2 separate regions of the Homo sapiens genome follow, and region 1 is linked to region 2. The links come from fine-mapping of genetic effects on gene expression. A gene starts in region 2. The other region holds a variant in brackets. All regions are shown on one strand. Distances are from middle to middle.

The links. PIP is the estimated chance that this variant, and not a neighbour inherited with it, causes the effect.
Region 1: its variant is fine-mapped to the expression of DCAF11 in whole blood (TOPMed, PIP above 0.99).

The regions. Positions count from the first base shown.
Region 1 is chr14:24,056,036-24,061,035 of GRCh38, reverse strand. CARMIL3 (capping protein regulator and myosin 1 linker 3) reads right to left here. Exons shown (of 40, transcript NM_138360.4): 11 at 4,643-4,737; 12 at 4,328-4,414; 13 at 4,012-4,121; 14 at 3,792-3,869; 15 at 3,157-3,233; 16 at 2,972-3,076; 17 at 2,812-2,881; 18 at 2,275-2,356; 19 at 2,050-2,146; 20 at 1,847-1,901; 21 at 1,594-1,766; 22 at 1,304-1,372; 23 at 973-1,066; 24 at 781-879; 2 more. Among named protein-coding and RNA genes, the nearest start is that of CARMIL3, 6.5 kb to the right of the region's middle. The variant C/T (reference allele first, on the strand shown) is at 2,573.
Region 2 is chr14:24,111,557-24,117,068 of GRCh38, reverse strand. DCAF11 (DDB1 and CUL4 associated factor 11) reads right to left here and starts at 2,292. Exons shown (of 15, transcript NM_025230.5): 1 at 1,776-2,292; 2 at 1,320-1,687; 3 at 25-152. The coding sequence starts at 1,474. NRL (neural retina leucine zipper) reads left to right here and starts at 2,120. Exons shown (of 3, transcript NM_001354768.3): 1 at 2,120-2,347. RefSeq lists enhancers at 2,213-2,362, 2,603-2,742, 2,324-3,039.

The DNA.
Region 1 (5,000 bases), 56 kb after region 2:
GCTCCTTGTCCACAGCTTTGGACACCTCACTTGCTACTGATTCCAGCCTCTGCCGCACAGGCCCATCATTGGCCAGCACGTGGCCCAGCTCATAGAGGCTGGGAAACAGCTGGAGAAGGAAGGGGTTATGATTAGCAGGCCAGAACCAGGACTTGCTAGGTCTCTGGGGTCCCTGGGCTAGGAAGGCAGATGCACAGGGCAGGGCTGTCATGGCTTAGCATGGTCGGCCTTCTTGGGTTCTCCAGACTTCAGGGGAAGGGTAGCCTGTGGAGGGCTCACCGCCCGGGAGTTCTTGGCATCTTTGATGAGGTCCCGAGCGTAGAGTAGCTCATCCTGCACAGGCTCCAGGGGGCATAGTCTCAGGGCCCGCACCTCCTCCTGCACTCGTCCACACAGCCGCTGCAGCATCTGGAGCACAGTGGCAGGGGTGTCAAGGGGACCCCTGCTTCCACATCTTCGCAGGTAGGACCCCTTAGACAGTGCTACTGGTGCTGGCACCGACAGTGGTGGAGGTGATGTCTCTGGCTGGCCTGGTCCCCATTGCTACAGCCTTCTTGAATGCCCAGCTGAGCTCCCAGAGTCCTGTGCACTCCTGCTGTTCGCCCACATATGTTTGAAGCCCATATCCTGCATGTCCTCTCTTTTTGCTTCCCCACATGCTCAGTCCAGTGATAGGCACCATGCAGTGCCTCTTCATGCTCCCCCACTCAATTTTCCATCACATCACACTGTGCCCTGCATGCCCCGGGTATGCCCCGTGTCCCAGAGGGAAACGTTTACTTGCTCGGCGCTGCTGGTCACCAGGCCCTGCTGCAACCTGAAGGCCTGCTCCTGGGGGCACGTCTGGGAGTGGTTGTTCCTCACTAAGCACCATTGGATCTGGAGATGATGGGGTTGGTGGGTCAGGGCCTGGGGATGGGGGCTGCCCCCTGCCCCTTGCTGTGCCACCCTGCTTAGGACAGCACCCTGCACCTTCTGCCAGACGTCCTCGGTGCGCTCAGGCGCGCTGCGATAGGCTTGGGAGATGTCGCTCACGGGGAAGGACATGAAGCGCAGCGTGTGGTTGCTGTGGGACACAGGGGCACAGCTGGGTGGGAACAGGTGAGGATGGGAGGCCCCTGCCTCCTCTGTTGGTGAGCAGCCCTCCAGCCCCCTTGCTCATCATTTCTGTCTTCCATGGCCCTTCCTAAAATTTCTGTGCAAATAGGTCAAAGGGGCTAGGGTGGGGCAAGAGTAGTTCAGGCCTGATCCAGGCACAGGGAGGCTGGGGACTTGGATCAGGGCAGGACCATGGTCTACTCACCTCTCCAGGGCCCTTGCGATGTCCAGGAAGCCCAGGGCAGATGTATTGTTCCGATCCCATAGGATAGTTCTGGGGGGAGGGTAAGCACCAGTTTGGCACCTCTCCTCCTGGGTCCCTACTAGGGGCCAGGGACACAAACCTCTTGGGGCAATAAGGCTGACTCAGAGATGGTTCTGGGGCTGGGGGTCTTCTGGAAGCTGGGGTCCAGAGCATCAAGGAAAGCAGGGAGATTATGTACATATGGGGAGGGGCTGGGGCTCCAGGTCAGGGGGTCCCGGTGTGGGCCCCACCTGAGGGAGGAGTTTATCTGCAGGGCCTTAGACAGCATCTTGGCCCCGATGTCCTCCATGCCATTGCCGCTCAGATCCACCTTGGCCAGGCAGGTGTTGCTGCCCAGGGCATTGATGAGGATGCTGGTGCGAAGCTTCAGCCGGGAGTCTGCCACCGACAGTGACTGCAGGGACTGTGTGGGCAAGGGGCGGTTGGACCCAGTCCCCACAGCCTCCTCCGACTGCAGGTCCCCTCCCAGGCCCAGGCACTCACACAGTCCTCTTCCTGGATCAGCTGCACCAGCTTGTGGAGGATCTCCTCCAGGGTCCTGCAGGGAGGCGGGGCTCAGAGTAGGAGGGGAAGGGCTGGGGTCATGCTATTGGAGGAGGAGAGAGGTGGCCAGAGGTAATACGGTGAGCCAAGAGGATGGGTGAATGATGGGATGAGGGTCTGTGGGCATGGAAAGGGGGCCTCACTTGGCCTTGACATTGAAGTTCTTGCCCAAAAACAGGTGCTTGAGGGACTTGTTCTTGCCAAGTGCAGGCACCAGTGTCAGGAGGTCCGAGTCGAACCCTGGTGAGCAGATGGGAGAGGCCTGGCCTGGAGGCCTGAGGCTGACTGGTGTCCCATCAGGGCTGCTTCTGCATGCTCCAGGCCCCTGTTCTCCCCTGGCCCCAGGGAAGGGAGGAACCACTACTCACCATTGTCTGACAGATCCAGGCTGCCTACACAGGTGACAGCTCCCAGCTGCTCCTGCAAGGCTTGGGCTCCCGCTGAACGGAGCTGCAGGGACAAGGTGAGGTAGGGAAGGCAGGGGTTGGGGTGGGGGTAGGGCACCTTTAATGCTTAGGATATAGTAGTCACACCAGAACTCAAAGTCATGCCAGGATCTGGGTGTAAAATCAGGGAGACTCTTTCCCCACACCAGATCCTTCCCTAGAGCTGGCTTCCCTCCCTTCGGCCAGGAAGGCTGCTATTCCTAAGACAGCTTGCTCCTGC[C/T]CTCTGGTGGAAAAGTCTGGTATCTCCCACCCCAAAGCTTTAAGGGCAGAGATACTAGAGACTGAGAATGAATGGCCTCTGGAAAAGAGGCCAGACTGAGAGGGGAAAGTGGTGGTGTGGCCAGGTCAGGGGGTCGCAGAGGGTCAGCACAGAGGCTAGATGGAGCCAGGGTTTGACTTAGGTCTGAGAAATGCACATGGATCGGAGGCGGGCAGAGGGGTTGGGGACTGAGGGCTCACCTCGCAGCTGCTGAGATCCAGGTGCAGGTCACTGAGGTGACTGTTGAGGGAGAGGCCCTGAAGCAGCGCCCTGTGGGAGGGAGGTCAGCAGGCCCTCCTTTACCTCTTCCCGCTCCCCGTGGTTCCCTTGGATGCGCCCCCAACCCTGCACCCACCCGACCTGAGGGCCTCCAGGGGCAGCTTTGTGGCCGACAGATTGACGTGGCTCAGTGTGTAGGCGCTGCTGAAGAACTGCTTGAAGGCCGGCGGGGCCTCTCGACCCTTCCTGTGGAGAGACCCCTGGGGTCAGCGAGGGAGGGGGTTGGCCATGTCTTGCCCTGTCCTCCCTTCCCCCTCCTCTCCCACCTGTGGGAGCAGCTGTTGCGAGCCAGGTTGAGGTAGGTGAGGTGGGAGCAGCAGCCGTGGAGCAGGGCACCGAGAAGCTGTGGGGGGAGATATGGTGGGTCTCAGGGGAGCTGGAAGGGGGTAGGGGGTGGCAGGAAAGGACTCCCCCTCCCTCCCCATCGAGGTTCCTGGCTCTTCATTCTCTGTGGTCAGCCTGTGTGAGCTCCACTGGAGATGCCCACTCAGATTCTTGAAGTCTCTGTTTTCTCCCCTGTGGAACATGGGTCTACTCCCTGCCTGGCTTCCAGGGGCATGAAGCTGCTCACAGGCAGTGGATGTGTAAAGCCAGGGCCACCACTGACTCCTAAGGTGCCTTGTTCAAGTTAGGAAAAGCATCCATTCCCCTGGTGGAGCCAGGGTGCACAGCTGGGGAAGGGAGCAAGGGCTGGCTTTTAAGCACAGCAAGCACAAGCTTGTGACCTGGATAAAGTGCCACACAGGTATGAACTATGGACATTGCTTTATACTTCAGCTGAACCTGAAGTCATCTAGACAGCTCTGCCCGCCTGTGTACTCAGGGATAGGGGGTGAGACCGAGGCCCACTGTGGTCTTCCCCAAATCACCTCAGACTGGCTTCCCATCACCAACTCCTCACCAAGTCGATGACGCAGTCAGTTCCTGACAGGTCCAGGTGCACCAGGGCGTTGGGTTGGGCCAGGAAACTGTAGAGGGCCTGGAGTAGGAAGGAAGAGGGGTTGCAGGGGAAGGGATGATGGAGTCTCGCCACCCCCAGAGGCCATGGGGCAGAAGGCCTCCCAGCTCCTGAAGCTTAAGCATGCTTTCTGCAGGGGGCTGAGGCTGTTCTGAGGACTCACATTGGCCTCATCCGTGGCGAGGAGCCCAGGATTCTTGCTCAGGTCCAGGTATCGAAGGGAGCTGGCAAATGCTGGGTTTGCCCCGAAGGTCTGGCCGAGTGCCTGGAGCCCTGAGCACAGCGGGCACTGGGCTGGGTTGGCCCCTAGCCCCACCTCTTCCCCTCAGCACATAACTCTTCCCCTCTCCCCAAACGTGGCTCCTTTTCACTCTTCCATCCCTGAGGTGGTGTGTGAATGTGTGGGTGTACCTCTGGAGCTCAACACCCCAGGCAGCACCAGGGTAGGGTCAGAGGTCAGGGGTCCTTGGTGCGAGTACCTCGAGGGGAAATGGCAGTCTTGGCCAGGCACAGTTTGGTGAGGCCAGAGGGGAAGCAGAGGAGCTGCTGGCTCAGACTGAGAAAACCTGGGGAGTGGAGAGAGAAACGGGCCCAGTGAGGGGCAGGGCAGTGGGTGCAGGTGGCACAGAGTCAGGTTGGGGGCTCGAGTAGGGTACAGGCCTTGGGTCAAGGATGGAGGTGTCAGGGCAGGGGCTGGAATCAGGCTGGAGAGCTGCTGTTCAGACCTGGTTGGGCTCTGGGCTAGGACAGGGGTCTGCATTGGGATGGGGACAGGATTCAGGGCTGGGGCTCACCCTTGTCCTCGATGGGGTTGTGGGACAGAGTGAGGGCATGCAGCACACAGCTCCCGTTCTCCCCAAACACCCCGGCCAGCTTCTGGACAAAGTCCCTTCAGGGAAGGGGAGGAAGGATTTGTCCTGAGCTGAGCCCCAGGTCCCAGCCTCTGGGCTTCCCCTCCTCCTCTACCTGACTGCCTGGCTGGGGCTGCATGGTCAGAGGCCCCCACAACAGGGGAACAGCTCAGGGCCTGCCAGGGAGCTTGTCACCACTCCGGAGTACCTGGGGGCATTCCACACCTTAGGAAGTTGTGCTGAGACAAAGGTCAGCTTTGGGTCCTCAAGACTGGAGCAGCCCACCCTGCTTGGTAGTTAA
Region 2 (5,512 bases):
AACATTAGGGGCTTTTCCTCTTACCAGGTGGGTTGTATCGATCCCCAAGACGACCATCCCAAGCTCTGTCATTCTCTTCCTCTGAGTCCAAGAGGGCCTGAATGAATTGTAAATTTGCTGCACCTCCTCCCTGCACCAACCTCACTTGGCCTCTGTGGAGAGACCCCCATTATAAAGGAGGGGACTTCTTCCCCCAAACCAACCAAATTCAGAGTCAATGGCTATCTAGCTCTTAGACCACTTGGTACTCATTTTGAGGTTTGAGGCTGACTAGACCTTGGCTGTTATTTTTGGTCTCCTATAAAACACAGTAGGAAAGAGAGTTTTACTCTTACAGCAAGAGCAAGACCAACATGCTGTGGACGTGACCTACTAAGTTGACCTCCCAGCGAGCTAAACATTCTAACATCATTTCCTTAGAACAAGAGCAAGACCAATACGCTGTGGACATGACCTACTAAGTTGACCTCCCAACAAGCTAAACATCCTCACAGCATTTCCTTCTGAGCCTCTGCCTGAGAAGTCCACCACAGAAGACAATATTCTAAGCTGGGTGCGGTGGTGTGTGCAACTGTAGTCTTAGCTACCTGGGAGGCAAGGATTGCTTGAGCCCAGGAGTTGCAGGCTGTGGTGTGCACTTGATCACACCTGTGAATAGCCCGTTCTCCAGACTGGGGAACACAGTGAGCCCTGTCTATGTCTACTAAAAACAACACAAAACACAAACAAAAAAGAATACAATATTCTGAAGGGACCCCCAAACCCATCTTCTCCTCAAAGAGCCATAAGCAAAGAAAGAAAGCCAGCTGCACCCTTTTCCAGTCAATTCCAGGTGGTCTCTCCCTTCAAGGCATTCTTTCCTCAAGAACAGGTTAGAGTCAGGGCAAATTAAACTTGTTTTTCAAGTAAATCGAAGTGGCCTCATATCATGTGTCAACTGCCTTACTAAAAAGTTCAACACTCCCTTCCCATCTCTTCACCCCTTACATCACTCCTTTCCCACTAGGACCCCCCCCTTTTTTTTTTCAAGCTTACTTGGAAAATAGACTATATTTGTGTAGTCACAGAGACAGGCTCCCTTGAATAGCCCCTCAAACACATGAGCAGGTCCTCTTGGTGACCCTCCCTAGGTAAGAACCACTCTTACTGGGTATGGAGCTGAGTGCCATGGGTGCCCAGCAGGGAAAGGCTGTTCAGCTCAAACAGAACAGCTGTCCTGAGCGAATCCCATTTCCTAACCTCTGTAATTTTCCTGCCTGGAGTTGGGATCAAGGCACTGTGGTAGCACCTGCTGGGGGTCACACCAGAGGGTAAGTTACCTGCGGAGGAGATAGGCCAGTACCTGGGCCAGATCCACATCTTCATCCTCTTCTTCCTCTTCCTCACTCCGACGCAGGCCAGCCCCTCTTCGGGGCAAGCCCTCGGAGGGGTCTCCGGACCCGGATCCTGCACTGCTGCTGTTCCGCGATCCCATCTTCTGGTCACAGCATTCTTAGGTCCTGTGCGGGGGCTCCTCCTGTCACCTCCTTGGGTTTGGTGAAAGCAAAGCGTGCTCTAGAAATACCAGGGTCTCCTGAGACGGGGTAGTAGCTATCTCTAGGAGGGTGACCCTTCCTCGGGGCTGAGATCCCTTTTCTTTAGCCTATGCCAACTACCAAGGCGTCGGGAACACAAACCTTCTCCAATCCTGTGAAGCAAAGAAAGCAAGAGTGAACCGTAGTGCGCTACCCTAGCTCACCAACTGAAGAAAGATTTGTTTTCTACACCAAACTCACCTATCGAAGTCCCCGGACTGGGGAGCGGGAGGGGTGTTGGGCGGTGTTGGATTTCCAGGTAACCTCTCTGACCGACCAATCGAAATCCCTCTCGGAAGAAAGCGCTTCACTAGCTTATCTCATCTAACCAATTAGAAGCCTTAGGACTCAAAGACCCTCGACGCCCCCACCTTATCGACCAATCAGAGCGCCCCCTTACAAAGGCCGGCAGCAGTGACAGCCAATGAAAATAGAATTTGGCCTAACACCCCTCCTTCCTCGCCTCACGCCCACGTGGTGCGCCGGGGGTGTGTACGCCATGAGGGGGAGGAAGCCGAGAAGCACCTCCCACTGAAGCCGGCGGTAACCGCCCCACGCGAGACCACCCACCAGCCAGGAGCGGTCGCAGGACCCGCAGCGGCGCGAGGCCTTGTTTACACCGACTGCCGCCACTGCGTTGGCCAACCGCTCCTCCGTCACGCGCTTCGCTCGTCACGCATCTCGCGGCTTCCTGGCCGGCGGGCTGCAAACGTCACACGACGGCCCCGCCCCCTTGGCCAGCCAACTGGACAGCGGAGCACGATGATTGATAGGTAGGCGGGAGAATGCGCGAGGTGCCTGAGGGGAGGAGAAAGTGCACACCCAAGGAGGGCTGTTAGCTCTTGCTGGGGAGGAGTAAGTGGGAACTGCCAGCTTCCTGAATCAGAGACAGCCGAACTAGGCGTAACGGCTGAGAGGCGGGGCTTAAAAAAGAAACGTTTGGTGGTTCGCTACCGAGAGGTATTTTAGCAAGGGATATAATTTACTGTCTGTCCCTAAAGATCATTTGGCATCGCACTTTTCAGACAGTGCCCAAGGGCCTCCTTTCTCCCCACTGCTTCCCCTGTCCAGCTGGAGCCGTTCTTCTGTCGCTGGCCGCAGCTCCAGTCGGTTCTGCCCTAAGGGGTGCCCAGCGTCCCAGTAGACCTCCATACCGTCCTTCCGGGCTTAGCTTTTGGAAGCCTTGCTCTTGGGACGGTCCCCTTTTAGACCTCCCTTTATCCGGTCTGACAATTTTTTAAGACAATCCCTGGCTTTCCGCCGCGGTCTTTGCAGACGTTCCCTAATACACGCGTCTTTCTGTCAAAGCTTTTCCGGTTCCGCTGTCCCCTTTGACGCTCCCTTGGCCCTCCGGGATTTGCAGACCTTCGCTAGTCCCTCTGTCCTCGCGGTGCCTCTCCGCCCCCGGCCGCGGGTCCAGGGTGCGCGCTCGCCGCCTCCTGCCCCCTCCTGCCCCCTCCTGCGGGTTTATGAGTAACAAGCCTGAGTCCAAGGCCGGGAGTTGCCACATCTCTGATCCTCGCCCTGGCTGGGTGGGGACGTGTGGGTTGAATGACCTTGCTGTCTCGGGCTCAGAGGCTCAGGGTCCGAGCTGAACTTCATTCCCTGCAGCCTGCACTTCCTTGGGAAAGCTGCGAGCTTCCCTCCGCCCGCTCCTGAGGGCAGGGATGGGAGCGAGGGCTCGTGGCCTTCTTGGGCCCTCCTGGGGCCTCTCCCAGTGAGGGCGAGGGTTTGGCCAGCTTTCGGGCGACGTCTCCTAGTCTCTAGATCCGGAGACCTGAGCTTGTCACCAGGGCTAGCTTTGATGGCCTCTGCGCTTAGAAGGGTCCTGAATGTTTGGTTTAATGTTCTAGTGTTAACGGTCTTGAAATTATTAGTAATTTTAAAGCAAGTGCCTGGTATTTTCATCTTGCACTCGGCTCCACTGATTATGTAGGCGGTCTGCTGGGCGCCCATCCTCTATTGCCAGATTACTTACTATCTGTGCTTTAACGTTTATTGAGACTTTAGGATTCCGTGGTTTCTGGGTTATCCAGCCTGGAAAATCGGGATCTTTATTTATTGATTGATTTTACCTGCGTTCTCCCAGAATGTGACGGAATCATTTTTTTTTTTTATTATACTCTAAGTTTTAGGGTACATGTGCACATTGTGCAGGTTAGTTACATATGTATACATGTGCCATGCTGGTGCGCTGCACCACTAACGTGTCATCTAGCATTAGGTATATCTCCCAATGCTATCCCTCCCCCCTCCCCCGACCCCACCACAGTCCCCAGAGTGTGATATTCCCCTTCCTGTGTCCATGTGATCTCATTGTTCAATTCCCACCTATGAGTGAGAATATGCGGTGTTTGGTTTTTTGTTCTTGCGATAGTTTACTGAGAATGATGGTTTCCAATTTCATCCATGTCCCTACAAAGGACATGAACTCATCATTTTTTATGGCTGCATAGTATTCCATGGTGTATATGTGCCACATTTTCTTAATCCAGTCTATCATTGTTGGACATTTGGGTTGGTTCCAAGTCTTTGCTATTGTGAATAGTGCCGCAATAAACATACGTGTGCATGTGTCTTTATAGCAGCATGATTTATAGTCCTTTGGGTATATACCCAGTAATGGGATGGCTGGGTCAAATGGTATTTCTAGTTCTAGATCCCTGAGGAATCGCCACACTGACTTCCACAATGGTTGAACTAGTTTACAGTCCCACCAACAGTGTAAAAGTGTTCCTATTTCTCCACATCCTCTCCAGCACCTGTTGTTTCCTGACTTTTTAATGATTGCCATTCTAACTGGTGTGAGATGATATCTCATAGTGGTTTTGATTTGCATTTCTCTGATGGCCAGTGATGATGAGCATTTCTTCATGTGTTTTTTGGCTGCATAAATGTCTGCTTTTGAGAAGTGTCTGTTCATGTCCTTCGCCCACTTTTTGATGGGGTTGTTTGTTTTTTTCTTGTAAATTTGTTTGAGTTCATTGTAGATTCTGGATATTAGCCCTTTGTCAGATGAGTAGGTTGCGAAAATTTTCTCCCATGTTGTAGGTTGCCTGTTCACTCTGATGGTAGTTTCTTTTGCTGTGCAGAAGCTCTTTAGTTTAATTAGATCCCATTTGTCATCCTCCCTAACTCATTTTATGAGGCCAGCATCATTCTGATACCAAAGCCGGGCAGAGACACAACCAAAAAAGAGAATTTTAGACCAATATCCTTGATGAACATTGATGCAAAAATCCTCAATAAAATACTGGCAAACCGAATCCAGCAGCACATCAAAAAGCTTATCGACCATGATCAAGTGGGCTTCATCCCTGGGATGCAAGGCTGGTTCAATATACGCAAATCAATAAATGTAATCCAGCATATAAACAGAGCCAAAGACAAAAACCACATGATTATCTCAATAGATGCAGAAAAAGCCTTTGACAAAATTCAACAACCCTTCATGCTAAAAACTCTCAATAAATTAGGTATTGATGGGACGTATTTCAAAATAATAAGAGCTATCTATGACAAACCCACAGCCAATATCATACTGAATGGGCAAAAACTGGAAGCATTCCCTTTGAAAACTGGCACAAGACAGGGATGCCCTCTCTCACCGCTCCTATTCAACATAGTGTTGGAAGTTCTGGCCAGGGCAATCAGGCAGGAGAAGGAAATAAAGGGTATTCAATTAGGAAAAGAGGAAGTCAAATTGTCCCTGTTTGCAGACGACATGATTGTTTATCTAGAAAACCCCATCGTCTCAGCCCAAAATCTCCTTAAGCTGATAAGCAACTTCAGCAAAGTCTCAGGACGGAATCATTTTTTAAAAAAATTGGCCGGGCGCGGTGGCTCACGCCTGTAATCCCAGCACTTTGGGAGGCCAAGGCGGGTGGATCACCTGAGGTCAGGAGTTCGAGACCAGCCTGGCCAACATGGTGAAACCC